3 linked regions of the Homo sapiens genome follow. The protein of the gene in region 1 interacts with the protein of each later gene in a pairwise test. Each region holds a gene or a part of one and is shown in the gene's direction. Other genes may lie near its edges. The genes, in order: DDX17, NFAT5 and CFAP418.

Region 1 (10,433 bases):
GCTGGTCTCAAACTCCTGACCTGAGGTGATCAGCCCACCTTGCCCTCCCAAATTGCTGGGATTACAGGCATGAGCCACTGCGTCCAGCCTTCTTTCTTTTTTTTTTTTTTTTTTGGAGATATATTCTCACTCTTGTTGCCCAGGCTGGAGTGCAGTAGCGAGATCTCAGCTCACTGCAACCTCCGCCTGCCAGGTTCAAGCCATTCTCCTGCCTCAGCCTCCCGAGTAGCTGGGATTAAAGGCGTGCACCACCACTCCCAGCTAATGTTTGTATTTTTAGTAGAGACAGGTTTGCACCATGTTGGCCAGGCTGGTCTGGAACTCCTGACCTCAGGTGATCTGCCTGCCTCGGCCTCCCCAAGGTGCTGGGATTACAGGTGTGAGCCACCGCGCCTGGCATTGAATGTGTACTTTTTTTTTTTTTTTTTTTTTTTTTGAGATGGAGTTTCGCTCTTGGTTGCCCACGCTGGAGTACATTGGCACAATCTCGGCTCATTGCAACCTCCACCTCCTGGCTTCAAGCGATTCTCCTGTCTCGGCTTCCCAAGCAGCTGGGATTACAGGCATGCGCCGCCACACCCAGCTAATTTTTGTATTTTTAGTAGAGACGGGGTTTCACCATGTTGGCCAGACTGGTCTCGAACTCCTGACCTCAGGTGATCTGCCTCGGCCTCCCAAAATAATGGGATTACAGGTGTGAGCCACCACGCCCGGCCTACTTAACTTTTTTAAGAAATAAGCTTGCATTTGTCCTATATATTTATGAACATGTACAATATGTCTCAAGATATTCACAAAAAGAAATAATGCAGTACTTATAATACATAGTATATGTCTGACAGCATTATTATTAGTTGATATCTAATGGATCAGTATATAAAGCAAGTTTCATAATTTAATTTGAATGGTATATGATACCTTGATTTTTGTATTATTTGGCCAGATTGTACACAGTCTTGTCAGATTACATGTAAATTTTCATTGTTTTTGCCTTATCTACCTGGTGATGTGCTTAAATTAGAGGTCAGGAATGTGTCATTCTGCCAGTTTAAGTCAGGATGACCATCCAAAATTCCAAATTTTAGGCCAGGCATGGTGGCTCACACCTGTAATCCCAGCACTTTGGGAGGCCAAAGTGGGCAGATCACATGAAGTCAGGAGTTCGAGACTAGCCTGGCCAACATGGGGAAACCCCCATCTCTACAAAAATACAATAATTAGCTGGGCATGGTGGTGCCTGCCTCTAGTCCCAGCTACTCAGGAGGCTGAGGCGCAGGAGAATCATTTGAACCCAGGAAGCAGAGGTTACAGTGAGCCTTCATTGCACCACTGCACTCCAGCCTGGGCGATAGAGTGAGACTTTGTCTCAGAAAACAAAACAAATCCAAATTTTGAGGACCAATATGATCCTCAAAGTAAATGCTTGCTGGAGCATTTTGGTTTTGGGGGTTTAGGATGCTCAACCTGTAAATGAGAGTTGTATACTTAAAACCAGGTAATACAATCTATATCTCCACTTAAACAGTATATATAAACTATAATGATTGATAATGTGTCATAGTAAAAGTGACGAGGATACCAGTATCATTCCAAATGCTAAACATGAAGTTCTAATAATTTTTTTCTATATTCCATTGTGCTAATATTCCCCACTTCTGATCTTCACCCCATCACTTTTAATGTGCTAGATTAGACAGCAAAGAATTAAATTAGCTTTTTGTATTTTGTTTCTTCTTTTTTTTTTTTTTTTTTTTAAACCTTGGATGAGGTCTCAAGTGTCTTTTTGTTGGTTTCAGTGTCTAGTTCTGGCTCCTACCAGAGAGCTTGCCCAGCAAGTACAGCAGGTGGCCGATGACTATGGCAAATGTTCTAGATTGAAGAGTACTTGTATTTATGGAGGTGCTCCTAAAGGTCCCCAGATTCGAGACTTGGAAAGAGGTAATAATATATAGTGTAAAAGAATTGTTAGTTTATCTTACTTTACCAATTCCTGTGGAGGAAATTGGAGAAAAAAAGTGGGTTCTTGTGATAAACTCAGAATTTCAGCAGCTTAGAAATTCTCAGATGTGACTAAAACAGCTATTTTGAGAGAGAAGGTTCAGCATGGCTGGAAACTTTGTGAGGATTTGGTGATTGTACATAAGTCCTGACATGGTTTTGCGGTTACTTTGTTAAAATTTAGCTTCTCTGGGCCAGTGCGGTGGCTCATGCCTGTAATCCCAGCACTTTGGGAGGCCGAGGTGGGCGGATCACGAGGTCCAGAGATTGGGACCATCCTGGCTAACATGGTGAAACCCCGTCTCTACTAAAAATACGAAAAATTAGCCAGGCGTGGTGGCAGGTGCCTGCAGTCCCAGCTACTGGGGAGGCTGAGGCAGGAGAATGGCGTGAACCTGGGAGTCGGAGCTTGCAGTGAGCCGAGATCGTGCCACTGCATTCCAGTCTGGGTGACAGAGCAAGACTCCATCTCAAAAAAAAAAAAAAAAATAGCTTCTCTGCAGCATTGAGTACAGCCACCAGGGCTGCTGCTGCTGCATTTTTGTAGAGTCGGGGTCTTGCTATGTTGACCAGGCTGGTTGTGAACTGGCCTCAAGCGATCTTCCCGCCTCCTCTTCCCAAAGTGCTAGAACACAGCTGTGAGCCACTGCACCTAGTCGATTGGCTCGATCATTGGTTTTGTTTTACAGGTGTTGAGATCTGCATAGCCACTCCTGGACGTCTGATAGATTTCCTGGAGTCAGGAAAGACAAATCTTCGCCGATGTACTTACCTTGTATTGGACGAAGCTGACAGAATGCTTGATATGGGGTTTGAACCCCAGATCCGTAAAATTGTTGACCAAATCAGGGTGTGTAAAGCTAATAATAAGCAGTCTTTATGCCATTTGTCCAAGTTCCTTAGCCTGAAAGAAAGCCTTTCCTTTTTTGATAGCCTGATAGGCAGACACTGATGTGGAGTGCAACCTGGCCAAAAGAAGTAAGACAGCTTGCAGAGGATTTCCTTCGTGATTACACCCAGATCAACGTAGGCAATCTGGAGTTGAGTGCCAACCACAACATCCTCCAGATAGTGGATGTCTGCATGGAAAGTGAAAAAGACCACAAGTATGAAAGATATTTTACTCTGATTTGATAATGCTGATAAACCTTTTCTAATAACCCTCCAAAATTAGTACTGTAGAAACCAGTATATTTTGAGGCCTGAGAACATTAAAAGCATTGCTAGGTTTCTGATAATCCATCATCATATCATTTGTCAGAGCATTATGGTTAAATGCAAGGATTCTGAATTCTTGAGTTTGAAATTTAGCTCTGCTGATTACAAGCTGTATAATTTTGCACAATTTTGTGTCTTGGTGCTGCAGTTTCTTCATCTGTGAAATGGGAGTAATACCACTTACATGAGACTTGCTGTGAGGATGGTATGAGTTAGTATTTCTTGAGCACATAGCAGAACCTGACTCAGTACTCTAATAGTTATTAAAAATTTTAAAAGCGTAATGTGCAAAGAAAGTACTGTAGCCTTGGGAGTTGATATTGCAGACATAATCGTCCACATAATAACTTTCTGTGTGATGACTGCATTGTTGGTCATGTTTTCAGGTTGATCCAACTAATGGAAGAAATAATGGCTGAAAAGGAAAACAAAACAATAATATTTGTGGAGACAAAGAGACGCTGTGATGATCTGACTCGAAGGATGCGCAGAGATGGGTGAGTATAGCACCAAGGCAATTAACCTCTGGTTTTATAGTTAACTGGAAATTTCTAAATTGGTATTCCAAATGTTGTGTAATATTTCAATAATGCCTATCCATGCAGTTTGCTCTTTTAATGAGCACAGTCATCTATTCATGAAGCCTGACAAACCTTACAAAAATTGCATGATAGCATTTGGCTTTAAAGTTCGATTTTCTCCACTTTAAAAGATTTTTAAAATATTGGTCACTTTTCTTCTGATAGTTGGCCAGCTATGTGTATCCATGGAGACAAGAGTCAACCAGAAAGAGATTGGGTACTTAATGGTAAGTTTAAAACTAAGCATTTTCTGTTGATTCCCCACCCCCTGCCCATAAGTGAATGTTCATGCTCTATTTCAGGGATAGGCAAACTTTCTGTAAAGGGCCACATAGTAAGTATGCTTGGCTTTGTAAACCAAATGGTGGTCTCTGTTATAGCCACTCAGCACTGCTGTTTTAGGACAAAAGCTGTAGGCTGTAGATAATATGTAAAGAAGTGGCCTGGACTGGGCACCGTTGGTGGCTCATGCCTATAATCCTAACACTTTGGGAGGCTGAGGCGCGTGGATCACCTAGGCCCAGGAGTTCAAGACCGGTCTGGGCAACATAGTGAAATCCTGTCTCTAAAAGAAAAACAAAACAAAACAAAACTTAGCCAAGCTTGGTGGTGCACGCCTGTAACCCCAGCGACTCCGGAGATTGAGGTGGGAGGATTGCTTGAGTCTAGGAGACAGGTTGGAGTGAGCCAAGATCGTGCCACTCCAGCCTGGGTGACAGGGTGGGACCCTGTCTCAAAGAGATAAACGTGGCTATGTTCAGACAATATTTATTTGCAAAAATAGGCGTTGTGCCAGATTTGGCCCAAAGGCCAGTTTGTCTTACCCCTGTTGTATAGTTGATTGAATTACTGAGGGTACTTTTAGCGTGTGCTCATGGTTCTTTAAGGGCCACGATGCTGGCTCTTTAAACTTTTTCACAACTTTCACCACCCTCCCTTTATTAATAAAGTCTTCAATTTTTTCCTTCTGATTATAAAAATATAACTACCGTTTGGGGAGAATTAAACTGTTACTGAAATATTTAAAGAAAAATGTTTCTTAATGAGTCATATTTTAGCATATTTCCTTTCAGTCCTTTTTTTCAGGACTACTCTTAAGGGAAGCCATTGAGAAATGGAAGAGGCCATATTTTGTTTAAGAAATAAAATGTGGCCGGACACAGTGGCTCACGCCTGTAATCCCAGCACTTTGGGAGGCTGAGGTGGGCGGATCACCTGAGGTTGGGAGTTCGAGACCAGCCTGACCAACATGGAGAAACCCCGTCTCTACTAAAAATACAAAATTAGCCGGGCATGGTGGCATATGCCTGTAATCCCAGCTATTTGGGAGACTGAGGCAGGAGAATCGCTTGAACCCGGGAGGTGGAGGTTGCGGTGAGCTGAGATTGCGCCACTGCACTCCAGCCTCGGCAATAAGAGCGAAACTCCATCTCAAAAAAAAGAAAGAAAAATAAATAATATGCATACCTTTTGGGGGGAAATTCAGTTCTTTTCATTCTACATCTTTTGAACTTGTTTCCTACTGACCCCCAACTTTTGGTTGTGTCTCATTTGGGAAATAACTTTAAGGGGAAAAAAATCTAGCTCATATTAATTATGTAACAAATTGCCACACTCTCTTAACGGTATTTCATTATTAGTAGAGGTAACTATTGTGCTGCTGAATATGAGTGTAATAAAGATTTTCAAAAGAATCACTGTCAGTCATTACAAGAGCTTGGGATTTTCTGGCACCATTATTTGAAATTTTAACATGGTTATGTAAACAGATCAGATAGCAAGGAATGCTTATTTGATGATGATTATTGTTTGTTTTTACAGAGTTCCGTTCTGGAAAGGCACCCATCCTTATTGCTACAGATGTAGCCTCCCGTGGGCTAGGTTTGTATAGATAGGTGTCTCTGTCAATGGTATATGTATCTTTTGGTTTAAAGATTCGTCATTTCAAATTCAGACTTCAAGTTTAGAAAGTTGTATATACATGTGGTTAGATAAATATTTGAAAGAAAAAAATACAAAGCGTGATTCTCCCCATTCCCTGCCCCCCCCACAATTTTTTTTAACTTTGGTTTCCCCCACCCCCCTTTTATTTTCAAAGTCTCTTCCTGCTCCTAACAAACAGGCTTTGGTCTGCAGCAAGGCCTAGGCATGACTATTCAAACAGAGGGAGAGGAGACAGACAGCTGAATGGCTCAGCTTCTCTCTGGTGGTGGTTTCTGGCTGGATAGAATAAGCCTGACGAAACCTAGCTATTGTAAGCTAGTTTCTTCAGTTATTCTTTTCCCTATCCCTGTCTAAGCTAGATATATACAGAGAGGTCCAGTTTTATGAATGCTTATTAGATGGAATTTTATAAGTCTAATGCAGTATCAGAATAGCAAATATGTGTATTGCCCAGTTTAATTTACTGAGGTCAAATTATCATGGGCACTTGGCTATCCCCTCCTACCCATGCACTTATCTGTAGGTGTGTTATCAACTGATGATTTTCTGGAGTTTTTGACCCATTACCATTTAAGATATACAGAGAATTTTATGGTAGTTTAGCCCACTATTCTGAGCTAAACAGGTCTAACTCAGAACTTCTATATTTTAAAAAAAAAGATTATTTGTATTACAAGGAAATCCTTAAATTATTGACAGGTATTTAATTTGCCCAGTAAGGTGAGAAGTACCATATTATTCCCTTATACTATATAATATAAAGAGAACAGGTATTCAAACTGGAATACAAAAGTAATGAAGCCTTTTTATGCATTGCACTCATCATTCCCTCCTTCAGAGGTGGTGACCTGCAGCCATGATGGAAAGTTCTCTCTGCCCCTCTGCCCTCTGAGGTCATGTCTGGATCTGTGCCATTAGAACTTGGGCCTGTTGGGAGAGGAGGCGGAGGCCTGAAAGCAGTTTACATAAAGCTTTCAGTAATGGTTGGTTTTTAAACAGGCTTGCTATGTGCTGGTAGCTTCTTTGTGCATCTTGCCTAGACAATTAAAAATATTTGCTCCATGTCCCCTTGCATTTCTAAACCAAATTAATTGGCTACCATTAGAATAACTTAGACTCTTCATCCCACCCCCACTCATCCAAGTGAGGGGAGAGGGAAGGTACCCGAGTCTGTTTCTTGTTACTCAACATCAGTGCTTGTTTTGGGCCCCTTTGTTTGCTGCCTTGTAAAAAATCAAAAGAGGGAGAAAACCCACCAAAATGGCAGAATTCTGACCAATGTCCTACAAGATCCTGGAAAGTGAAGGCTTCTACCTCATAGACAGGGGTGCAATTTTCAGCTGAGTCACCAGGGCCTTTTTTCACTTCCTGTCAAGCGATGGTCTCTTAAATGTTCCCTTCAGGTAAGTTCTTTGATTCCCATAATTTTATAATAGTCATCCTTAGGCTACCACTTCCCTTTCCACTGGGATATTTTTTATTTTTCCTTTTTTTTGTTTGAACTACACACTGTTAAACTAAAAGTATTGAATTTATTTTGTTTTGTTTTTTAACAGAAGCTTTGATATCAGCTGCAGATCACTCAATACATGGCCGAGACAAATCTACATTGGCCGGAAGCAGCTCTAGATGAGCCTCTTGGCTAGACTTAGTCCCTCCTTATTAGTGATTGGCGATTCAGGCCATGTCATAGGGCCTTTCAGACAAAAGGTTCTTATCCCAGTCAGCTGGCCAAAACATTAACTTTGGATTTCTTACCCTGCTACAGCATCTTCTAGAAAGGCAGCAAGATAATATTGTGGCAGTGCACAGATAACATCAGGGTAGACTTGACTGGAGAAAACCAAATTCTGCGCTTGCTCCTGTGTGCCCCCATCCAGCTGTGCATGCACACACAGGACACCTTTCTAGTATGAAGAACTTGCATCATGTCTGCCCTCTATTGAGCACCCCCTTCTAGAAATACTTCCAAGTATTAGCATGTGAACTGTTGACTCCACCCTGGTGCTTTCTGCTAGGAAAGCACACTTAACGCATCCAGTGTAGTAATTGAACTTGTTCTACTGCCATGGTCATATGCAGTGGGATTGCATAAGGAGCATTATCCTAGCTCTGAAGATACCATGGAGTAGAATTCCCCACCCCCTGTCTTACATCCACCCTGGCCCTGTAAATTCTTTTTTCCTTTGTTGCGTCAACGACCCTAGCCGGAGACTCAAGCTGCCCCCTGTGATAAGTGCCTTCTCGTCTTTCTGGTGTGATTCAGGACTTTAGGGGTCAGTAAAGACCGAGGAGCCTTTATTGTAATAAGAAACAGACATAATGCCCCTTCTTCACAAGCCCTGTAACAACAGCTAATTTTTTTTTTTTAATCTCCCCTTTCTCCCTTGAAATTAATCCAGTCTGGGCAATAGATGCAGTCTGACCCTTTGGATGTAACTTACATTTTTTTTTATTAATTATTTTTTTCTACAATCACCCCAATTATCCTTGGGGGAGGCGTTGGAGGACCTGAAATTTTTACCCGAACCCAGGTTCTCCGGCGCTTGGCAACCAAATGGGGCTACAGAGAAGCATCTAAGCCAGTTCACAGAGCGAGCGTGTGTGGGGACTTCTCACTGCCACGGACCCTTGATGCATGCTCCCCGCGCTCCAGTGGTCCCGTGTCAGAAGGCGGAGTTTTCGAAAGGAGGCCGCCAAAAATAAAAGGCAAAGAGACGGGATCGGCTGCAGCGGTTTCCCAAAGGAGGAGGGAGTGTGCATCGGTCTGGTAACAAACAGAGAATGTTTTTTAATTATTTATATCACAAAAATCTGTGTTTTATCTAGGATATTTTCTGAATATTCTTTGTAAAATGCAGATTTTTTTCCACAAAACAGTAGGATTCTTTGTTATATTCTTAAAATTGTTTGTTTAAGTAGGTAAAAATATACATTCAGCTGAAAGCATTACACTAACATTTACATTTTAAGCCTTAGGAGGTTATTCAGCCCAATTCCCAGCAGTAGAGAGAATACTAAACTTGTGTCTCAAGGTTTCATGGTTTTCCCACGTTCTTTGGCTATTAATTTAATTTCCCAGGTCACGTAGACAATCATTGATAATTGAAACAAGTCCTGAGTTGAAATAACCTTGAGTTGAGCAAAAATATCCTCATTTTGGCAGAAGCTGGGCTTGGTAGTACAGTAAAATTTTAGTGTAATGTGCTCTTGTAATTGAAAGGGGATAGATAATCTGGATGTTTCTGCAAAGGAAAATAGGTGTGTACTTAACAGCTTTGGCTCTACTCAGTTTCTTAAAAAGATAAGAGCAAAAAAAGTTAAATGTTAATCAAAACATTTAAGTTTCCTTTAAATTGTAGTAATAAAATATATGAAGCTCCTTTTTTTACTTTGCTCTGTGACTGGTTTAAAGGTAAGTTTGTTATGTTGTTGGTAGATTTTGCCAGGCTTCTCCCAACAGAGTAGAAGTGATTTGGCCTCATAACTTCACAGTGGTTTACCACTTTGTTCTATGTTCTGGTTTTGTAAAGGATAGTACTGGAATTTGCGTCTGAAGACCAATATTGGTGTAACTCCTGTCAGTATATTGGTAAAATGTAGCAGAGGCAGGAGTTTGGATGTTTGGATGGGATTCCCTTAGGATTCTACAGCCAATAAAGATCCTATTTCCTATGCATGTCCCAGGAATCAGTAATCCTCTTTTACTCTGTTGGGATGAGTCTTTTTTTGTTTCTGTTCAGAGTGGTTACTAACTTCACCTTCTTTCCTCTTGCTGTCATCTGCATTCGTGCTTCCCACCTGTTGTTGGCATGTCCTTTACCTTCTCTTTCCCTGCCACATCAACCTACACACTGACTCATCATTGACGTGGAAGATGTGGAAGATGTCAAGTTTGTGATCAACTATGACTATCCAAACAGCTCAGAGGATTATGTGCACCGTATTGGCCGAACAGCCCGTAGCACCAACAAGGGTACCGCCTATACCTTCTTCACCCCAGGGAACCTAAAACAGGCCAGAGAGCTTATCAAAGTGCTGGAAGAGGCCAATCAGGCTATCAATCCAAAACTGATGCAGCTTGTGGACCACAGAGGAGGCGGCGGAGGCGGGGGTAAGGGTAAGTCCTGGAGTTTTCCAGGTACTGCCAAGGTATCTCTTTACGCCTTCTGTGACTTGCTTTTAGTTGCTGTTTTTAAGAAGGCTGTAAGTATGTTGCTTAATAGCAAAGGACACTGCCTAATGCTTTTTATAACCTTTTTCAACTAAGAAAACGTGAAGTTTGTTGTGATAGTCCTATTAGTTAAGCTAAATTGTGAATTTTTTTTTCTTAGAGACTGGTCTGAGGTTTGGTTTTGTTTGTTTGTTTGTTTTGAGACGGAGTCTTGCTCTGTCGCCCAGGCTGAAGTGCAATGGCGCGATCTCAGCTCATTGCAACCTCTGCCTCCCAGGTTCAAGTGATTCTCCTGCCTCAGCCTCCCAAGTAGCTGGGATTACAGGCACCCGCCAGCACACCCTGCTAATTTTTGTATTTTTAGTAGAGGTGGAGTTTCACCATGTTGGCCTGGCTGGTCTCGAACTCCTGACCTCTGGTGATCCACCTGTCTTGGCCTCCCAAAGTGCTGAGATTACAGGAGTGAGCCACCAAACCTAGCTGAGGCTGGTCTGTGGAGTTTCACCATGTTGGCCTGG
Region 2 (10,433 bases), on another chromosome or scaffold:
GCCGGTTCTGAGTGCAGGGTCACCATTTTCCTCCCTTTCCAGCTTGTTTTTGCGCCGTCGTTCCACCCCCTCTCCCTCCGGCCTAGTCCACTCCCTCCCCATGTTGGGACAGCCCCCCTCGACCAGGCGTTCTTCCTTTCCTCGTCATCTTCTTGCTGGAAAGGGCCCGATGGAAAGGGCCCGAATTTTCTTTTCTTTTTTTTTCTCTTCCCACCTCCGTGGCATTCTAATTACTTCTCCCTTCTCCTTTACAAAGATGGGGGTGCCCTCTCTGGATTGGTTTTATTCCTCTCCTCTCCCAGGAGGACCAGCCCAGGCACAGACGCTGTCCTTTGAGAATTTTCTCTGCTTTTCCGTTCAAGGGCTGGTTGCAGGGAGGGAGCTCAGGCAGAGACTTTTCATTTAAGAACTCTTTTGGCTAAGGCCTGCAGGGGATTCCCAGCATCTGAAATATTAGCACTGGAGCTGATCCCTACTCAGGTGAAATTCCTTTACTGGACACCACAAGAATGTGTCAGAACAGGTTCCCTGTGCAAGGGGCTTCAAAACCAAAATATTCCCACTGCGCTCTTTACGCTTTTTAAACCACCGGGAGGGGGCAAAAGACATAACTGGGTTGTTAACTATTCATTTCACCGTGTAAAAAAAAATGTAGGTGTTTCTTCTGCTTTTGGTTTGATGTATCCATCCATTTGCTTATTCCACCCCCTCCAAAAAAGGGACTTCACCTTCCTACTAGTGTATCTAAATTGTTTAAGTGAATCAGAGTGAGATGGTTTACTCTGAAAGGTGCTGGACTTTACAGACTGACCATTGATTTTGTACACAGAGTCCTACTTAGTAATTGTAGCCACTGTCTGTTGCTCCAATGACTTTAGTTGGCAGCCACCATCCTGTAGGATGTTTTTCGGGCAACATTACCTGAGGTACTTTAGAAATATTGTAGTTTTGAATGTCAAAAAAAAAAGAGACATATCAAGAGATGATTCTTAGAGCAGGGCTAATGTGTTAGAATTGAGTGCTAAAAATAGCCAAGACATTAACACCATTTGGGGAGTAATCATCAGATAATTTTCCATGAAACATATACTTTATGAAAATCTAAGTTTAGCTTCGAGACCAATGTAGAGACAATTCAGCCTCTTTTGCGGGGAATATATTCACAAATATGGGCTTTAGCGCTTAAAAATACACTGCAGTTGGCCGGGCGCAGTGGCTCACGCCTGTATTCCCAGTACTGTGGGAGGCCGAGGCAGTTGGATCACCTGAGGTCGGGAGTTTGAGACCAGCCTGACCAATTTGGAGAAACCCCGTCACCCCGTCACTACTAAAAATACAAAATTAGCCGGGCGTGGTGGTGCATGCCTGTAATCCCAGCTACTCGGGAGGCTGAGGCACGAGAACCACTTGAATCCGGGAGGCGGAGGTTGCGGTGAGCCGAGATCGCACCATTGCACTCCAGCCTGGGCAAAAAGAACGAAACTCCGTTTCAAAATGTATGTGTGTATATATATATATGTGTGTGTGTGTGTGTGTGTGTGTGTGTGTATATATATATATATATACACACACACACATTGCAGTTATATAAGAGATGTATGCTATCCTTGGCATTTTTTTCCTCATTCAGCATAAAAAGTACCTAATGCTTTTTGTGTTTTTCAGATTCTCTGAAGTTACACCCATCACAGAATTTTCATAGAGCTGGACTATTGGAAGGTCAGCAAAGTACCATTTTAAAGCATATTGTGTTAGTATGCAAAGGCTTTCTCTGAAATGGAGTTTAAATGGGAAAGTATGAAACTTTGCAAACTCACACAATGTAGTTTTCTCCTAAAGAGTCTGATCCTTCTTTTAGAGCAGCTGAATGTTTCAATGGGTTTTGTTGCTGCGTTTGATGTGCTTGTTGGCTGTTCTATCTGCTTTGAGAAACATTGAAAAAAAAATCATTTTAAATTATGTGTTGAGTGTTCTACTTTAGAATTCCAGACCTTCATTTTAGCTTTTTATACACAAAATAGAATGTGAAAAGGCCCAAACATTAACATGAATATAAAAGAGTGACACCAAACACATAATTAGTTTGAAAATTCAGAATTTAGAACATTTATATGCTGAGCATTTCAAAATATGTTAATTATTTATTGCAAAAGCATTGATGCCATTGTTATTGCATTATACTTAAGGGTAAGGAAAGCCAAGTAATAGCGATGATGATTGAGCTATGCTTAGAAGAAAGGGGTTTAGAAAGTTCTGGAAATGTTAATAGAGTCTGTAGATTAGTTTAAACAGCTTACACTTACTTTAGAAAACTTTTGGCTTTGTGTGTGTGTGTGTTTTAACATTTTAAGACATAAAATAGTCTTGTGTTTTTGTAGATTTTGAAGTGATTTCACATATATCATCTTTAAATCTTTATAATTTTGGAATTGGACAGCAAAGGTACTAATTTCCCCATTGTAGAGAAGAGAAACTAAGGCTGAAATTAAGAAACCAAAAAAAAAAAAAAGTCCCACAGTAGAAGAAATAATACTTTCTGCGTTTCAGTTAGTGCTCTTTATGCAAAGCGGCCACCGTGAAATACACATGTAACCAGTAACAAACATTTTATGGTCTACTTTAAAAAGGCCCTAAATATTTAAGTTTGACTTGAGAAGATTTTTGCCTCCCTTGGAGGTAGTCCGGGATAGTGGGGGGCAAGTGGGTTTTGTAGTTGAGCTTAAATTTGAATACCAACTTAGCTCCTTATTAGTTCTGTGACTTCGGGCAAGTGATTTTACCTCTCTAAACTTTAATATTCTTCCTGTTAAAATGTAGCTGTCTCTTAAATTTAGTGAGCTAATGTGTATTAAATTGCCTAGCATAGCGTCTAGCTTAATAAATGTTAGTTTTTTCCTTTAGTATCAGCTAAATTTTTTTAACAGTATAATTTAGAGCATATAAAATGTTCTCAAATAAATAATTGGTTAAATTTGTTTTGTACGTGTAAGAAGCCCATAGATATACATTAGTATGAAAATCAAATATTTTTAAAACTACAATTTGAAGTGAGAAATTTTTAGCAGTGTTTCTTAGTGAAGCAGATTTCTGGTTTTTATTCATATTCAATTTGTGACCATGTTGTAGAGACATATTTGTCTGTACAAACCCATCTCATTTCCTGGACAACAAACCATAGAGTGTCATAATCATAGAGATGATCAGGGAGGAGAAAGACATGAAGAAAAAAATGAGTGTTAATTATTTAAGCAAATATTTTTAGTGAGCTGATGGAAATACAGACAACCATTTAGCATGTTTATTTACATGTTTATGCCTAAATACTTTCGTTAATTTTTCATTTTAGTTAAGGGGATTCTCATTTAAAGTAAGGCTACCCTTTTAGAAATTATATATAAAATATAACATGTATAAGTATCAATTCTGTCATGCCCTTTAAAATGTTTTGAGACAGGGTGTCTTAAAAAAGTTGTTTGCTTCTGTAATGAAGTGTCTAATCTGTGCCACCTCATTGCTATTTCTTTTTTATTATTGACATTTTAAAGAATACATAAAAGTAGAGAGAATAAAATAAGCCCCATATACCCATCACCACAGTTTAACCAGTATCTAATCTTGCTTCTTTTATCCCTTCTTCTCTCTCAAGCTGGATTATTTTAAAACAAATATCAAACATCAGATCACTTCATACATAAGTATTTCTGTATTACAGTGACTTTCTTATATTAATTATTATTGATATAATTTAATTGTTAATATAATTATTGTATTAATTTTTAATTACTCTGTATAGTTTATAAACTATTTCTTGGAATATTCTAGTTTATTTCAGCAAAGTCTCTTGTGACTCTCCTGCCCTCTTTTCAAGACAGAGTGCTGCAGGAGGCTACCGCTTCTAGTATATAGTATATCCTATAACCTATGTTGAAATTGTAGGCCATGCTGCTAGATTGGAGTTCATATTGTTGCTCTGACATTTACTTGTATGGCCTTAGCCTAATAATTTAATCTTTTTTGCTTCAATTTTCTCATCTTTAAACGGGAGCAATAATAGTGCCTCATCCTAGGTTTTTGTGAAGATTATTTGAGGCAAATTCGTGTAAAGCATTTAATTTAGCACATGCTAAGTGCTCAGTAAATGTTAGCTAAAGTTAAAAAATTTTTAAAAACTAAATGCTAGCTGTAGAGTGTTTACTGTGTGCCAAGAACTTTACAAATAAGAACTCCTGAGGTGGGCATATCACTTGAGGTCAGGAGTTTGAGACCAGCCTGGCTAACATGGTGAAACCCCATCTCTACTAAAAAAAAAAAAAAAAAAAAAAAAAAAAGCCAGGCATGGTGGCATACACCTGTAATACCAACTACTCGCGATGCTGAGGCAGGAGAATCCCTTGAATCTGGGAGACAGAGGTTGTGGTGAGCCAAGATCACTCTACTGAACTCCAGCCTGGGTGACAGAGTGAGACTCTGTCTCAAAAAAACAACAACAAACAAACAAACAAACAAAATAAGAACTCAGCGAATTCTCCTGACTACCCTTTGAGATGGTTATTATTATCCTACTTTAGAGATGAGCAATTGAAGGCATAACTCACCCAGAGTCACAAGCTAGTAAATTGTAGAACCAGAATTCCAACCCAGGTAGTCTCACTTTAGCCTAGCCTCTTGACTACTGTGCTGTACTAACTCCCAATGGTATATACTATCAAGTTCTGTCTAGTAATATTTATGTATGCATGTTTTACATCAGTAGTCTAGATTTTCATCTATAAATAGTATTTAAAAACTTGGCCCAGAGTGAGGGGAATTTAAGTAATTGGTGTGATATAATTTAATTTTTTTATAGAACGTACGTTTTCCAAATTTAAATTTTTTTTTTGGGGGGAAACAAGGTTGGAAAACCTGCACTTGGGTATTATTATTATTATTTATTATTATTATTTTTTTGAGATGGAGTCTTTGCTCTGTCGCCCAGGTTGGAGTGCAGTGGCACGATCTCGGCTCACTGCAAGCTCCACCTCCTGGGTTCACGCCATTCTCCTGCCTCAGCCTCCTGAGTAGCTGGGACTACAGGCGACTGCCACCACGCCCGGCTAATTTTTTTTGGATTTTTTAGTAGAAACAGGGTTTCACCATATTAGCCAGGATGGTCTCGATCTCCTGATCTCGTGATCCGCCTGCGTCAGCCTCCCAAAGTGCTGGGATTACAGGCGTGAGCCACCGCACCTGGCCTGCGCTTGGGTATTATTAAACTTTAGAAGTAGATTCAAAATGTCTACTATTCAACTGAGTTTGCATTTAACCTTCCTATCAAAACAGTGCTAGTCTTTCTTGCAACCTCTTTTTAAATTTAATACGATGATTGCCTGACAATGGGAAAAGGGTCCTGGCTAATTAATTAATGTTATAATACATGGCCATTAAATGATGTTTCTGGTAACCCCATAATTAACATGTGACACTCTTAATAAAATAAGTAAATAAAAATTATGCTGTTACAATTATATTCAAAGTAACTTGTGTTACAAAAATCCTGAACAAAAGTATACATCACTGATTTTCTATTTTTCAATTCTATTTTTGTATTTTCCATCTTTAAAGAACATGGTTTATATATTTTTTTTAAATAAAATTGTTTGCCATTAGTAAGTTCAAATTCGAAGGCTAGGATTCCTTTTTGAAGTGCCTGGGAAAAAAATTCAGCTGCAGAGAAAAGGCACCATTTGTTGTACATTCTATAATGAAAACTATTCATTTTGGCAAATGAAAAACTAAGATAGAAATGAAACTGAATGAATCATTCTAGAAATAGAGAAATATAAGATTATAGAAAAATCATAGATAAAACAGGAAAAATAAGAGTATAAACAAATTGGAAAAATAGATAAATATAAACAATAGATTTAACAATTTTAATGATTTTAAAAGCATGAGTTAAGAGATTATATATCAAATGAAAGAACTGGTTAAATAAGAGCTAAATGCTGATCTGATATAATCTTTGTTATTTATTTATTTATTTATTTATTTTTGATACAGAGTCTCACTCTGTTGCCAGGCTGGAGTGCAGTGGCATGATCTCAGCTCACTGCAACCTCTGCCTCCTGGGTTTAAGTGATTGTCCTGCCTCAGCCTCCTGAGTAGCTGGGACTACAGGCGCGTGCCACCACACCCAGCTAATTTTTGTATTTTTAGTAGAGACAGGGTTTCACCATGTTGGCCAGGGTGGCCTCGATCCCTTGACCTCATGATCCACCCTCCATGGCTTCCCAAAAGTGCTAGGATTACGGGCATGTGCCACCGCATCCGGCCACAATCTTTGTTTAAATTAAACATTTAAGACCGGAAGATTTTTAAAAGAAAATGTGAAATATGACAATGAGTTAAGAGAAAATAAACTATGATTTTTTTTTTACTACTGCTAATCTATTTGATATGGTACCATCCAGAATTATACTTCATAGTGCAAAAATGGAAAATCCTAAACATAGTAGCAATGTTTTATTGACTTTATAGAATATTTCTGATTTATATTTCTTCCTAGGGCCCTTGTTATATCATAGATCATAAATGCCTATAATATTTTATGTACAAAGATACCTTTTTGGAAAGGATTTTTTGAAAACATTTAACATGAAAAATAATCTATTGAATTCTTTTCTTGTTTAGTATCTAATAATCTCTGTGGATCCATGTCTAGTAAACTAAAAGTATTATGGAAATAATGAAGTTCAAACATGTCAAAAGTCATACCTAGTTCATCCCAGCTTCTTGTCTTTAGATCCATCTCTTTCTGATTGCTTACCACCTGTTTTTGTGTCCCTTCCTAAACTCTGCTTTCATTATTTTCACTCAATACTGGAATTCTATTGCTTATTTAAAATAAAAGGATATAAATTCATATTCTAATCCAGTGGTTCTTGGCCTGATTTTAATTTACTCTTGACTCTGATTATTCCAGGAGTCCCCTAAAATTTCAAAGTGGTAGTACAGAAAAACATTTCCCAGTGTGATTAGTATTATATATAAAAAACAGCCACTTTTTTTTTTTTTTTTTTTTTGAGATAGAGTTTCGCTCTTGTTGCCCAGGCTGGAGTGCAATGGTGCAATCTCAGCTCACCGCAACTTCACCTCCAGGTTCAAGCGATTTCCCTGCCTCAGCCTCCCAAGTAGCTGGGATTACAAGGGCGCACCACCACACCTGGCTAATACTGTATTTTTATTAGAGATAGGGTTTCTCCATGTTGGTCAGGTTGGTCTCGAACTCGTGACCTCAGGTGATCCACCCACCTCGGCCCCCCAAAGTGCTGGGATTACAGGCGTGAGCCACTGCGCCCGGCCAAAACAGACACTTTTTATATGAAAAAGTTGACTCCTCAGAGTATATTTTATATTAAGAGTAACAGGTAACTAGAAAAAAATAAAGATTATTCAGTGGCATAGGATATAGACCTTTTAACTTTAGAGAGGTAAAAGACATTTTTCAATAGAAATGTTGCTTATTAATTTGTATTATTGTCTTTTCTTGCTGTTGCTAAGATTTTATTTCAAGTTACGCAAAGAAGGTTGCTGTGTCTTCTGTTTGCTTTTGTGTTAATAAAAGTCAAGTTTAAATAAACTAACAGAGTATAAGACCAATGATAATTATGTACTTGAGTGAAAAGGTAGAGATTTCCTCTATGAGTTAACTACAGATAATGGATCTAGCTTTCAGAATAAATAAACTTGATGTAATAAAGGATATATATATTTAATCATTTGAACTAAACATTTGTTACATGAGAGTTCAGTTACTTTTATTTGTTCTTAATAGCTTTTGAAAAATATATACTTTTCTCTTTTTTTTTTTTGGTTTTTGAAACGGAGTCGTGCTCTGTCACCCAGGCTGGAGTGCAGTGGCACAATCTTGGCTTATTGCAACCTCTGTCACCCAGGTTCAAGCAATTCTCCCACCAGAGCCTCCCAAGTAGCTGGGATTACAGGCACGCACCACCATGTCCAGCTAATTTTTTGTATTTTTTTAGTAGAGATGGGGTTTCACCATGTTGGCCAGGATGGTCTCGAACTCCTGACCTCGGGTGATCTGCCTCCCTCAGCCTCCCAAACTGCTGGGATTACAGGCATGAGCCACCGTGCCCAGCCCATTCTCTTTTATTTTTAACATTTATGTGGTAAATAGGTAATGATCATTATTGCTTCCCACCCATGAATGTTTATCACTTCTTTTTCATTCAGGAAACACTGTGATTAGTCTTTTACTGAATTTGGTATTTAGTTTTGAAGATGAGAGAAGAACAGAAAAGTTTCTAATAGTGAGCTAAGTTGTTGATTATGCTTATTTATTTATTTATTTATTTAGAGACGGAGTCTCTCTGTTGCTTAGGCTAGAGTGCAGTGGTGCGATCTGGGCTCAGTGCAACCTCCGTCTCTTGGGTTCAAGCAATTCTCCTGCCTCAGCCTCATGAGTAGCTGGGACTACAGGTGCACACCACCATGCCCAGCTAATTTTTGTGTTTTTAGTAGAGACAGGGTTTCACCTTATTGGTCAGGCTGGTCTTGAATTCCTGACCTCAGGTGATCCGCCCGCCTCAGCCTCCCAAAGTGCTGGGATTACAGGTGTGAGCCATTGGGCCTGGCTGATTATGCTTATCTTTATAAAATTAGTTTTACAGGAGGCTGAGGTGGGAGGATCATCTGAGCCCAGGACGTCAAGGCTGCATTGAGCCTGCATGATCATGGGATCATGCCACTGCACTCCAGCCTGGGCAACAGAGCAAGACCCTGTCTTAAAAAATAATAATAATAAAATAAATAAATAAAGCAAGAGAAGAAAAAAATTTAGTTTTAATAAAAAAAACTGTACCTGAGGCAATCTTTGTAGGACATGCTAGTCAAAAGAATAAATTCAGTGTTAGTAATAATTGAAAACCTTTTTTGAGCAATTTATATGTCAAGCAGTTTATGTTTAACACCATTTTACATATATTTTTCACATTTAACTCTTAGAAAAATCCTGCGATGTAGTACCAGTATCCCTATTTCGTAAATGAACAAACTGAGGTACAGAGGGATCTACTAATTTTCCCAAGGGCACATATCTCGTGGATGAGGCTGGAATTTGAACTTCACCAGTTTTACCCCAGAGCTGTGAGATTATATTGACTGTCTTAACAGTCAGTAAGAACATTTGAGGCCGGGCTCGGTGGCTCACGCCTGTAATCCCAGCACTTTGGGAGGCCGAGGTGGGCGGATCACGAGGTCAGGAGATCAAGATCATCCTGGCCAACATGGTGAAACCCCGTCTCTACTAAAAAAATACAAAAAAATTAGCTGGGCGTGGTGGGCGGGCACCTGTAGTCCCCTGAGGCAGGAGAATGGCTTGAACCCGGAAGGTGGAGCTTTCAGGGAGCGGAGATGGCGCCTCTGCACTCCAGCCTGGGCGACAGAGTGAGACTCGGTCTCAAAAAAAAAAAAAAAAAAAAGAACGTTTGAAATTGGCATTTATACTTTGGGCCCTAATAAGATTACACCATTGTTCAGATGGTATAAAAAGAATAGTTTGTGTAGGATTCTTTACTAAGCAGCTTCCATAAAGTAATGAGACAAATTTTATAAACTACATACAAAAATTCATAAAGAATATGATTATGACTCTTTTGGGGAAGATTTTAATACTCAAAATTAGCAAATCATTGCCTGGCTTTGGTGAGTGTCTTTAACATTTAGAGGAAGTGATGGCTGATCAAAACACCTATGTTGGCCTAGCTCAGTGGCTCACGCCTGTAATCCCAGCACTTTGGGAGGCTGAGGTGGGCGGATCGCTTGAACTCAGGAGTTCGAGATCAGCCTGGGCAACGTAGCAAAACCCCCTCTCTACCAAAATTAGCCAGGGATGGTGTTACGCACCTGTAGTCCCAGCTACTTGGGAGGCAGGCTGAGGTGAGAGGATCACATGAGCCCAGGAGGTCAAGAAATACCTCTCTCCTGGCTGATGATGGGACTCAGAAGTGAAAAGTAGGAGAAGGCTAAGCAGAAGCCACCACCTAAGGGGAATTACTTTAGAAATGAAGGTGCCGTGGGGCTCTTGATTTCTTTGGCAGTAGTTTTATGGAAGCATGGATGCCATTGTTCCCTATTTCTGCTAGTATGTTTCAGAGACAAAGTAAATTCAAGAAGAGATGAGCAACAGAAGAAATAGTACTAATGTGAGCTATGTGAATAGTGGTATTTTGCATAGAGCCTTTATTAATTTACTTTGGTTCTTTCTGCTTTGTCTTTTTTAATCTGCCCCTTTCACCCCGTGTATCCGTTTTCTCACGGTAGTCTATACATTTTGTTGTTCTGCTATGGCATCTTGTATCCTTTCTCTATTTCCCTTCTTCTGAAAACAAACGTCTATAAAGGAGGTTTGCTATTGTAAATTGTAGTTTAGA
Region 3 (10,613 bases), on another chromosome or scaffold:
TGTTGGTTGCTATGTGGATGGTGATAAAATACCCATTTGGGTGGGGTCAAAAATTATATTACACTCTTATAGCACATCTGCAAATCCTGGCCTTTTGAACAAATGACCGCAGTACACCAGGCCTCTGTGCTGTCAGAAGCTGTTTCCCAAATACCAACTTTGAACCTAGCCCTACCATATGGACTCATGGGGTCAATGAAAAATGGTGTCTGAGGGGCCCCAAAGCATGAGAAGTTCTGGCAAAAAGTGACAGGTTTTATCCAGGCTGCTGAAGAGAAATGTACTGAGACTGGAAAAGCTAAGGAGGTGCACGCCTTCAGAACGTGTCTGTGGATCAAAATACACCCTAACAGATTCTAGAGAGAGCCCCTGGTGGCTGTGTTAATCTTGGCATTGTTATCATTAAGAGGCTATGCTCATTTCTGGCACCTAACACTGGACATATTGACAGCAACCGGGTTGATGGAAGAGGAAAGAATCTGTTTTGCAGTTAAAAAAAAAAAGTTCTCAGATTTCTCAAGCTATTTGAAATCACGCCACAGAAATACTTGATTTCAGCATTCTTCAGCTCTCTGCGATGATGCCGCAAGTGGTGTCCCCCACATGTGATGATGTATTTCAGAGCCAGAGTTTTCTCAAGATGTTCCAAGCCTGCAGGCTCCTGATCCTTTTTCAAATTACCAAGATAATAGTATCCCAGTGAGAGTTGTGATTAGTCTAAACTCTCCACAGCTGTGAGAGATGAATGTACAAATTCCAATAAAGATTCTGCATGTTCTGGGCTGAATTTACCTACATGACATCGAGGCCTAATTCAGGGACCACTTAAAAGAACTGGAGCTGCTTCGGTGCTACTCCATTCTTCCATGGCATCAGCTGCTAGGAGGCTTGCAACTGATCCAGGAGGATGCCTCCCCTCATGCCAATGTCACCGCCCACCAGTGGGTATTTGTTTAAAAGGCCTGCAGTATGCAGGGGAAAGATGCAGGGAAGGGAAAATTAAACCTAAGTACATGGGAATTCAAAGAAGCCTTGCAATTCATTATGTGAGCAGCCAGGGAGATTACAGAACACCTTGTAACTGAAGCAGTTGGCCTGAGGCGGCGTGGGACAGCAGAACCAGCTGCCTCACCACCTCTAACTCATTTATAATGGTGCTAGCAAGAAACCAGGCTCAGAGAGTTCTTCAGATTCTTGGGAAAGCCAACAGTGCTTTGGTTTCCTAATTTGGACACCTTTTACCTAAAATACTTCCTTGAATACTAAGTGAATGTAATAATACATGACATGCCCCTTTACCATGTTTTTTGTTTTGTTTTTAAGACAGTCTCATTCTCTTACCCAGGCTAAAGTTCAGTGGCACTATCTCGGCTCACTGCGGCCTCCACCTCCTGAGCTCAAGCCATCCTCCCACCTCAGTCTACCACATACCTGGGACCACAGGTGCAGCGCTGCCATGCCTGGCTAATTTTTGTAATTTTTTTGTTAGAGACAGCGTTTTGCCATGTCACCTGGGCTGTCTCAAACTCCTGGGCTCAAGTGATCCGCTCGCCTTGGCCTCCCAAAGTACTGGGATTACAGGCATGAGCCACGGCACCCGGTCTCCTTTACCATGTTAATAATTGTATCACCTGGAGGCACTTGCCTATTCTTTACGAAATACCTGACACTCAGCATGCTTTCCATGACTGGGAAAGACAGGGGACAAGGATTCACGACATTGTCTACACACGTTAACAATTATGGAGAAAGAAATAAGATTGTTAGTTAAACAGAAAGTTATACCAAAGGAATTTATAGCCCGGTTTAAAAAAAAATGATCTAATAGGATTTGCCTGAATGTAGAATCTTCTAAAGCCACACTACCTTCATCTTATACATCCACATCCATTGTTTAGAGCCCACTGAATTTTTAACTGTATAACTTTCTTTCTGACATCTGGAGATTTTAATAGTGCACTGTAATTTTACAGTTTATCACACAGCCATACACATATGTTACTCTTATGTGACATATGGCATTTCTCCTTGTAGACTCTGAACTCAACCTTTCACTCTCGGTGGCAAACCAGAAAGAGAACATGACTCAAGTCAGGAGACCCACCGGAGAGTTGAATGAGCCATAAATGAAATTCTCAAAATACCAAACTCTGGATGATCCATACATCCATTTTATTAAAATGGGAGTGGGCAGGAATGGAAAACCAAGTATCATATGTTCTCACTCGTAAGTAGGAGTTAATTTATGGGTACACAAAGGCATACAGAGTGGCATAATGGACACTGGAGACTCAGAAGAGAGGAGGACGGGTGAGGGGTAAAGGATAGTAACACTATCTATTGGAGGCTGGGTGTGATGGCTCACGCCTGTAATCCCAGCACTTTGGGAGGCTGAGGCGGGCGGATCACCTGAGGTCAGGAGTTCGAGACCAGCCTGAACAGCATGGAGAAACCCTGTCTCTACTAAAAATACAAAATTAGCCCGGCATGGTGGCACATGCCTGTAATCCCAGCTACTTGGGAGGCTGAGGCAGGAGAATCACTTGAACCCAGGAAGCAGAGGTTGTGGTGAGCAGAGATCAAACCATTGCACACTCCAGCCTGGGCAGCAAGAGCAAAACTCCGTCTGGGAAAAAAAAAAAAAAAAAAAGAACACTACCTTTTGGGTATAATGTACACTACTCGGGTGACAGGTGCACTAAAATTTCAGACTTCACCACTATACAATTCATCCATGTAACCAAAAACCGCTTGTACCCCAAAAGCTACTGAAAGTAAATAAAATCAATAAAATGAAATTTTAAAATGTAAACGGAATAAATTATCCAATCAAAAGACCAGAAAAATGGGAGTAGAAGTGAGGGAGCGAGGGAACACACTAATTTTTTTCTAATATACACAAAAAACAAAACACAGAAAACCAGAAACATTTTCTCTTTTATTTTTTCACCATCTCTCATTGCAAATCTTCTACACGCTAATAGATTCTTTTTTTTTTTTTTTTTTTTTTTTGAGACGGAGTCTCGCTCTGTGGCCCAAGCTGGAGTGCTGTGGCGCGATCTTGGCTCACTGCAAGCTCCGCCTCCCGGGTTCACGCCATTCTCCTGCCTCAACCTCCCGAGTAGCTGCCAGTACAGGCGCCCGCCACCACGCTCAGCTAATTTTTTGTATTTTTAGTAAAGACGGGGTTTCACCGTGTTAGCCAGGATGGTCTCCATCTCCTGACCTCGTGATCCGCCCGCCTCGGCCTCCCAAAGTGCTGGGATTACAGGCGTGAGCCACCGCGCCCGGCCGCTAACAGATACTTTCAACATTGGTACAGATCCCCTCAGATTTCATCTTCTCAAGAGCAAAATCAAATCATTAATGTAAGCCTGTTAAACTGGATGGCCACTAACTATGACTTCCCCTGGAACCATGTTGCAAGGACCGCTTTTTCAAGCAGCTTTTCCTTGCCTTTCTGCTAGAGACCGGTTCTAGGTAAAATCGCCCAGCAAGGCAACTTGGAAAAAAACTTTAAAAAATTAATTAGTTGGAAATCATAGAATATGCCAGGATTCTAGACAAATAACTAGTGTCCGAGTCCCCTCCTTGCCCCAACATTGTCTCCCCACCCTCTAGAGTTCTCTACTCTGACTACAAGGGTAATACATGTCAGGGTGCCTCTAGGATACTACTTAAGCATCCTGACAGTGTCTGATCTGAGTGGTCAGTGCTCAATGTTAAGTATTTTGCATAAAAATGCTAGTTTCCCCTGTGTGTGTAAATATACATATATGTTTATATGCATATTTGTGTGTGTGTGTGTGTGTGTGTGTGTGTGTGTGTTTAGGCCAGGATTCTAATAGCTAAAACAAAGATTCAGAGACAATAAATAGAGCAGCCCTGCAGAAAAGGGGAGTGTTGCCTTGCTGAGAATATTCACAGTTGGTCTGATGGTAACATGGGGTGTTCTACTAAATGACAGTTTGATCTAGATGATTTGTTTGTTCAAAGTATCTTTCATCTCCTAGGGATAAAAAGCCCTGCTTTGTCACATTTGCAATTTCCCTCATGTAAATAACACCCACTATGGCTCATTTCAAGCTTCCCAAGTGACATCACTGAATGGAAAGTTAAAGAGAGAAAGTCTTTCAGATGTAAACAATCTCAATTATATTTATAAATAATAGTAAAAGGTAGTGGAATCACTAGCATATGAATTTTGAGTATCATATTTGCTTTTAACATAATGTAATTGCAAGTTTGCATAATTTAATATTTAATAATAATTGCATTTAACAACTAGCTCCCAAAATCCTTGAAAATTTATCACTGGGTAGGAGTGAGCATGTCCCATTGGCTCCAGCACACCACTACATGTTGCTCTTCAGGGACCTTAAAAGATACTTTGAACAAACAAATCATCTGGATCAAACTATCTCCAGAGTTCCCAAGGGTGCCAACCTCTTTGCTACCCCACTTTAGAAATACCCAAAACACAGGTTAAACTATGCACAGTATTTATTAAGAATGCCATTTACAATACCTTACACTTGTATCACGCTTTACACTTTTCAAAGTAGTGCTTTTATGGCACGGTGGGACTGTCTGACCCTGCAGAGTGAATTTAAATCGCTGGGTAATAGCTTTTTAATGTATAATGGGTGAAAAGATAGTCCTGGGAGCCGTTTGTCAAAGAGAAAGGCGAAGGAGTGGAACTGGCAGCCCCACAAGGAAGTCGGGAAGCTGGTTGGCCCCTACCCGGTTCCTGGTTCTCTCCTGGAAATGGCTCCAACATTGTGCAAGCAAGTGGGTGTGCAATAGTTTTGAGCACGCATCTCTCTCTCTGTCTCTCTCTCTCTCTCTCTCGGATTTAATTAGAATTTCCGTTTTTTCCAACAAAGAGTTGGACGGGATACGTTCTAAGACTTTTACAAACTGTAAAATGATGAGCGAGGTAACATTCAAATATGCTCTTAACAGAACAGCTCAGTAATGGTTTCCTCCACATCAAAACGTGCCTATTGCTGCAGCAGACGCTTATGCAGAGTCTACATGCACTCTCACCGCAAAAATTCACACAGCCAGTAGTCGTGGCCGAGTGGTTAAGGCGATGGACTAGAAATCCATTGGGGTCTCCCCGCGCAGGTTCGAATCCTGCCGACTACGGGAATGTCAGCTTTTTGCCGTCAACACTTACTTTTTGTGTTTTAGAGCGTTCTGCTCAAACCTTCCACAGATTTCAGGAATTTACAAACGGCTGAAACACAACAGGGACCCAAACGGGAGAGGAGAGAATGAAGGGGCGAGAATGCGTGCTTGTGGTTACAACGTGGGCCCGGGAGGGGGAGACGGGAGGAACCACGCCAGACATGCTGAAAGGAAGAAACGCAAAGCATCGCGAGTCACACAGACACACTGCAGAGACAGCTCCGAACTCTGTCCCTGCATACGCCCGCCCCTCACGAACCCACCGCGTTCTCTGCCGCGAGCCCTCGTGGGCGCCGGGTTGCCACGGGAAGCGGTGCGCATGCGCGGGGACGCCTAACGGGGCAGGAGCCCGCCAGGTCCCCTCGTTACTCCTGGAAACCACCGGAGCCTTGGCGATTGGAGGGGAAAAGGCCAGGCGATTCAAGATGGCGGAGGACCTGGACGAGCTCTTGGATGAAGTCGAGTCCAAGTTTTGCACACCTGACCTTCTAAGACGGGGTATGGTCGAGCAGCCCAAAGGCTGCGGCGGCGGCACCCACAGTAGCGACCGGAACCAAGCCAAGGCGAAAGAGACGCTCAGGTTAACCGGGCGGGAGGGGTGGACTGTTCTGGTAAAGCCCTGCTCCAGGCCCTAGAGCTGCCCCTCCGCCGCCCAACCCAAAAGAAACGTGCCCGCGACCTCCAGCCCCTCCTTGCATCAGGGTTCAGACCCTCAGCGCCCTACCCTCCGCGGCAGCGCATTCGTCGACCCTCTTCGCGGATTCTGGCACCTCTTCACTCAGCGCAGACTCCGCCCCCCGGCATGCCCCAGAGGGCTGGCCCCCGCCCCGCCCCGCCCCGCCCCGCCCCGCCCCGCCCCGCCCGCAGAGCCCGCAGTCCGCGCCAGTCTCCTTCATCCTGTTTCTGGCTGCCAGCGCGTAGGAGGTTCTAGTCGGGGACCGGGATACCCCTCAGGCGCCCCGTTCTTAACCCCGAGAGGGCTGTGCTGACCTCGGCCGCATTTTGCCTCTGTGTGGCCAAGCGGTTCTCATCTCCCTGTGAGGTGCCCTGTTAGACAGCCTCATCCCATTGCCTCAGACCCCACTCCCCAGGTCAATCCTATTTGTCTTTAGCTCAGTTTTGTTGTTTTGTTTGTTTTTTGAGATGGAGTCTCGCTCTGTCGCCCAGGTTGGAGTGCAGTGGCACGATCGTAGCTCACTGCAGCCTCCAACTCCCGGGTTCAAAGATCCTCCCACCTCGGCCTACCCTAGCTGGGATTACAGGCACGAGCCTGTAATCTGGGATTACGTAAACTGGGATTACAGGCACGAGCCCGGTTAATTTGTATTTTTTGTAGAGACAGTCTCACTGTGTTGGCCAGGCTGGTCTTGAACTCCTGAGTTCAAGCTGTCCTCCCGCCTCTGCCTCCCCTAACTGCTAGGATTACAGTTGCGAGCCATCGCACCTGACTCAGTTTGTTTTATTTTTTTAACTCAGGGAGTTAAGATGAGATTAAATTCATTACAAAAGGGTTAATTATTGTGAACATTAAACCGTCTACCTTCCTTCTCTCCATGGCCCCCTAGTTAAGGGTGCCAGACATACATATGGAAATTTAAGGACATTTCTTAAGGTATTTTGGTTTTTTATCTAAAAACTACCTTTCAAATTTACCAGTCGTTTTTCCTCCATGTAATTATTAAATAATAGGATTTCCTTCACTTCCTCATTTCCCCCACAACCCCTCAAAAAAAAAAAACAAAATGTTTGCATAAGAATATTGACCTTCAGTAACTCTTGCTAGAATCTTTTGGAAATTGCCTCTTGCCTAGAATATTTTGGAAACGCTTGTGAAATTACACGGAGGCAACTTTGGATCAATCTAAGAACGTCATCTCCGTTAATTTTTTTGCTGCATCTTTGGTTTGGTTTTGGTTTTTTGGTGTGTGTATGTGTGATTTCCCAAAGTATTATCCAACTCTGTTACTATCCAGTTCACCTGGCTTACCTCCAGTGATATTTATTTATTTTATTTACTTATTTATTTATTTTTGAGTTTCGCTCTGTCGCCCAGGCTGGAGTGCAGTGGCCCACCTCAGCTCACTGCAAGCTCCGCCTCCCATTCCCCTGCCTCAGCCTCCCGAGTAGCTGAGACTACAGGCGCCCGCCACCACGCCTGGCTAATTTTTTGTATTTCTGGTAGAAACGGGGTTTCACCGTGTTAGCCAGGATGGTCTCGATCTCCTGACCTCGTGATCCACCCACCTCGGCCTCCCAAAGTGCTGGGATTACAGGCATGAGCCACCGTGCCCAGTCAGTGACATTTATTTATAAAAATTCACTCTGCGAAGATAAAAGCATCGAAAAAATTCTAAAGGAGTACATAAACAAAATTTCTAAAAATTAGTTGAGTTCTGAGCAGCATTTTAAAACAAAAATTAGAAACAACTATAATTACTATGAATGGGCTAACACTCATTTGGCTGGATGTTGTAAATATCACTCTCATTAACTTTTATTATCTTGTGTACTGGAATTCCTTATGTATCTATTAGCGCATCTACCATCCCTATCCCACAACAGTGTTGCTTTGCAATTTCTTTAGTACTTTTCGTTTGTCCTTCTAGGGGATAGAACTAGTCTATCAAGGAGCTTTTCAGAGCTGTTCATCTTAGGAGAACTAGCATGCGGAGGGGCAGGATGTATTGAAGCCAGCTGCTCAAAATGGAAAGGACTATTTATGTGGATCTTCTCCAACCATGGGTTGTGTCATGCCTGTTCTTGCTCTACTAAAATTCATCCATAATATTTCTAGTACCTCAGCCCACCTTAATACATTAGATTTTTTTAGTACTAAGTAACATAAAAGCCTTAGTGAAACAGTACTGTTGTCATTTATATTAAAACTTTTCATCTGGCAATGTAGTTGTAAATTGTACAAAAAACAGCAACAAAGGGCCTAAACCTTATACCAAATATAGTCCCAACCTGGTTTATAATGTTATATATTAAAATTTTTCCTTGAGCCAAAATTTATACTTAAAAGCTAGGAAGCAATTTATGTTTGAATTTATTGACAGGAGATTACCTACTAATTGTATAGCAGTGTAACCTGTATCTCTTATAAGAGTTAAAATACTAATATTACCTCTTAAAATGATACTATAAATGCAAATAATACTATAAATGACCATGCTACATCTGGATACCAGGAACAACTGCTAATGTAAGAGGTCAAAACATGCAATTTGTTGAAGTGTTCAAAATGATAAAAAGAAATATGTGATTAGTAAAAAAATTAAAAAAGACTGATGTGGGTTGAGAAGAACTGCAATAGGAATAAAGTGGTTCAGGATGATACAGATGGGAATATTTAAAGATAATATAGCTTTCTAGATGATAACTATAATAACAGCCAACATTTATTGAGCTCTTTCTGTATGCTAAGTGCTTTGTATATGTTATTTCATTTAATCTTCACAATCCCATGCGTGAATACTGTTATCCCCATTTCATTGACCAAATCAATGCTTAGTTACTTGCCTAAAGTCATATTGCTAAATCACAAGGACATAGTAGATCTAGATTTAAGCTTTCTATATAATACCTCTCACATTTAATTATAGGTTTAAGTGTTTATATTTTATCTTAAATATATGTTTTATTTTCAGCAGAAACTATATCTTTAAAAGATTAGAATGTCAGAAACAGAGTCAGAAAGGGAACCAGTAAAAGCTTATTAACATTTGATTGAGATTATTGTCACATCAAAAGACCAAAAAGAGTCTTATACAGTCCTTTAAAATTATGAGTTCTCAATGAAATGTTGACTTTATTGTTATTACTATAGCAAAGCATAGGCAAGTGTAGGCATTTTGAAATTGTGTGATCTAAGAACAGACCAGAATCTTATGTAAGCTGGTAATTTGGATCTGTAACAGTACTGATTAGGTTGGTGGAGTTTGGATGTATCTGATTCTTGAAATTGTGAAATTGCATGAGGGAGGAGAACCCGGAAAGTATGTCCTGAAAGCCAAAGGAGAGAATTTTAAGAGGACATCTTAGCAACCTCTTATCGAAAAAGAAATATAAGGAATTGGTACCCAACAGTGTCAGATGCTTCTGAAAGATTAAAGAGGATTGGAACTGAGAACCACCATTAGATTGTAGTGATTTGGGCAGTGGAAACCTTCGAGAGAAGAGTTTCACTATAGTTGAGGGATTAGAGGCCAGAAGTAGAATATTATACCTGAAAGAAATTTTAAATAGTCATCTAGATATCATTTTTATAGATAAAATATTTGAGTTTCAGAGAGATTAAATAATTTAAACTAAGTCGGTATCTCTAGACTGGTGATGATTTTGCCACCCAAGGGGCATTTGGCAATGTCTGGAGACATTTTTTATTGTCGCACCTGGGGAAGGGTGTGCTATTATTTAATAGCATCTAGTGGGTAGATGCTGTAAAATGTCCTGCAATATACAACAGTCTCCTGCCCCCACATACACACCCCAGAGAATTATCTGACCCAAAATGTCCATAATTCCAAGGCTGAGAAACCCCCGCCTAGGATTAGCACCCAACTGATTCTAAATCTAGTCTACTTGTAAGGAAGTAGAAATCGTGGATATAGACTATTCTTCAGTAGTGAGTAAGAAAGGGTGGCAGCTTCAAGACAGGGGTTTTTTGAAGTGTCTCTTTGAAGAAGCAAGCCTTGAGCATACCTCTAAGTCAAAGGAAGAAACCAGTATACAGTGAAAGACATTAAGGGTAAAAGTTACAGTACAACTGAAGAGGCTAAGCCTGGAGACAGAATCAACCATTAGGTAGTAGGCAGCCGTCTCTTGCTTTTCTTATATCAGGTTAAATTATTTTACTCCAAGATGTAATGAAGAAGGCCTATGTTAAAAATTGTCAGAGTAAATACATTTCTGAAATTAGAGAGTTTGACTAAAAAACTTGTCTTCTAAAACAAATAATTTAATGAAGTTATAAAGTTGATGTACAGCATCTACTTCATACAAACGCTAAAGAAAGTTAATCTTGTATAGTATTAAGTGCACGGACTGCCCTAGATTCAATTCCAAGCCTTTTCTCCCACTACTTATATGACCTTGAACAGATTTCTGAATCTCTCAGTGCCTTTTCTTCATCTATAAAACTGGGGTTAAATAAAGATATACTCATGTAAAGACTAAGGACAATGCCTGGGTTATAGTAAGTATTCAGTAAATACTTACTATTTAGTTATTAGCTATTTAGCATCAGCTATTAAATAGAAGTTCTATGCAGTAGTGGTTTATATTAATAATCCAGTGATGGCTTTGCCTGCAGAAGGTAGAGGTAGTTGAGTAGTTGAGATATTCTGTCTAACAAATAGCACCTTTTTTTGGGGTGGAGGTGGTCATTTGATTACATGACCTTCGGCCCCTCTAGTAAA

Evidence for each region.
Region 2: the proteins of DDX17 (region 1) and NFAT5 interact in binary tests that used the Homo sapiens proteins (3 or more experiments, as listed by UniProt).
Region 3: the proteins of DDX17 (region 1) and CFAP418 interact in a two-hybrid assay, tested with the Homo sapiens proteins (one study listed by IntAct).

What each region holds. Positions count from the first base shown.
Region 1 is NC_000022.11:38,487,301-38,497,733, reverse strand, and holds part of DDX17 (probable ATP-dependent RNA helicase DDX17 isoform 1 precursor), read left to right. Parts: intron 1-1,796; coding exon 1,797-1,938; intron 1,939-2,687; coding exon 2,688-2,848; intron 2,849-2,931; coding exon 2,932-3,104; intron 3,105-3,602; coding exon 3,603-3,713; intron 3,714-3,962; coding exon 3,963-4,024; intron 4,025-5,618; coding exon 5,619-5,678; intron 5,679-9,618; coding exon 9,619-9,855; coding exon of another isoform or gene 9,856-9,861; intron 9,862-10,433. UniProt on the Homo sapiens protein: As an RNA helicase, unwinds RNA and alters RNA structures through ATP binding and hydrolysis.
Region 2 is NC_000016.10:69,566,830-69,577,262, forward strand, and holds part of NFAT5 (nuclear factor of activated T-cells 5), read left to right. Parts: intron 1-1,665; coding exon 1,666-1,719; intron 1,720-10,433. UniProt on the Homo sapiens protein: Transcription factor involved, among others, in the transcriptional regulation of osmoprotective and inflammatory genes. Binds the DNA consensus sequence 5'-[ACT][AG]TGGAAA[CAT]A[TA][ATC][CA][ATG][GT][GAC][CG][CT]-3'.
Region 3 is NC_000008.11:95,264,195-95,274,807, reverse strand, and holds the start of CFAP418 (cilia- and flagella-associated protein 418), read left to right. Parts: upstream 1-5,606; 5' UTR 5,607-5,618; coding exon 5,619-5,773; intron 5,774-5,917; exon of another isoform or gene 5,918-5,972; intron 5,973-10,613. UniProt on the Homo sapiens protein: May be involved in photoreceptor outer segment disk morphogenesis.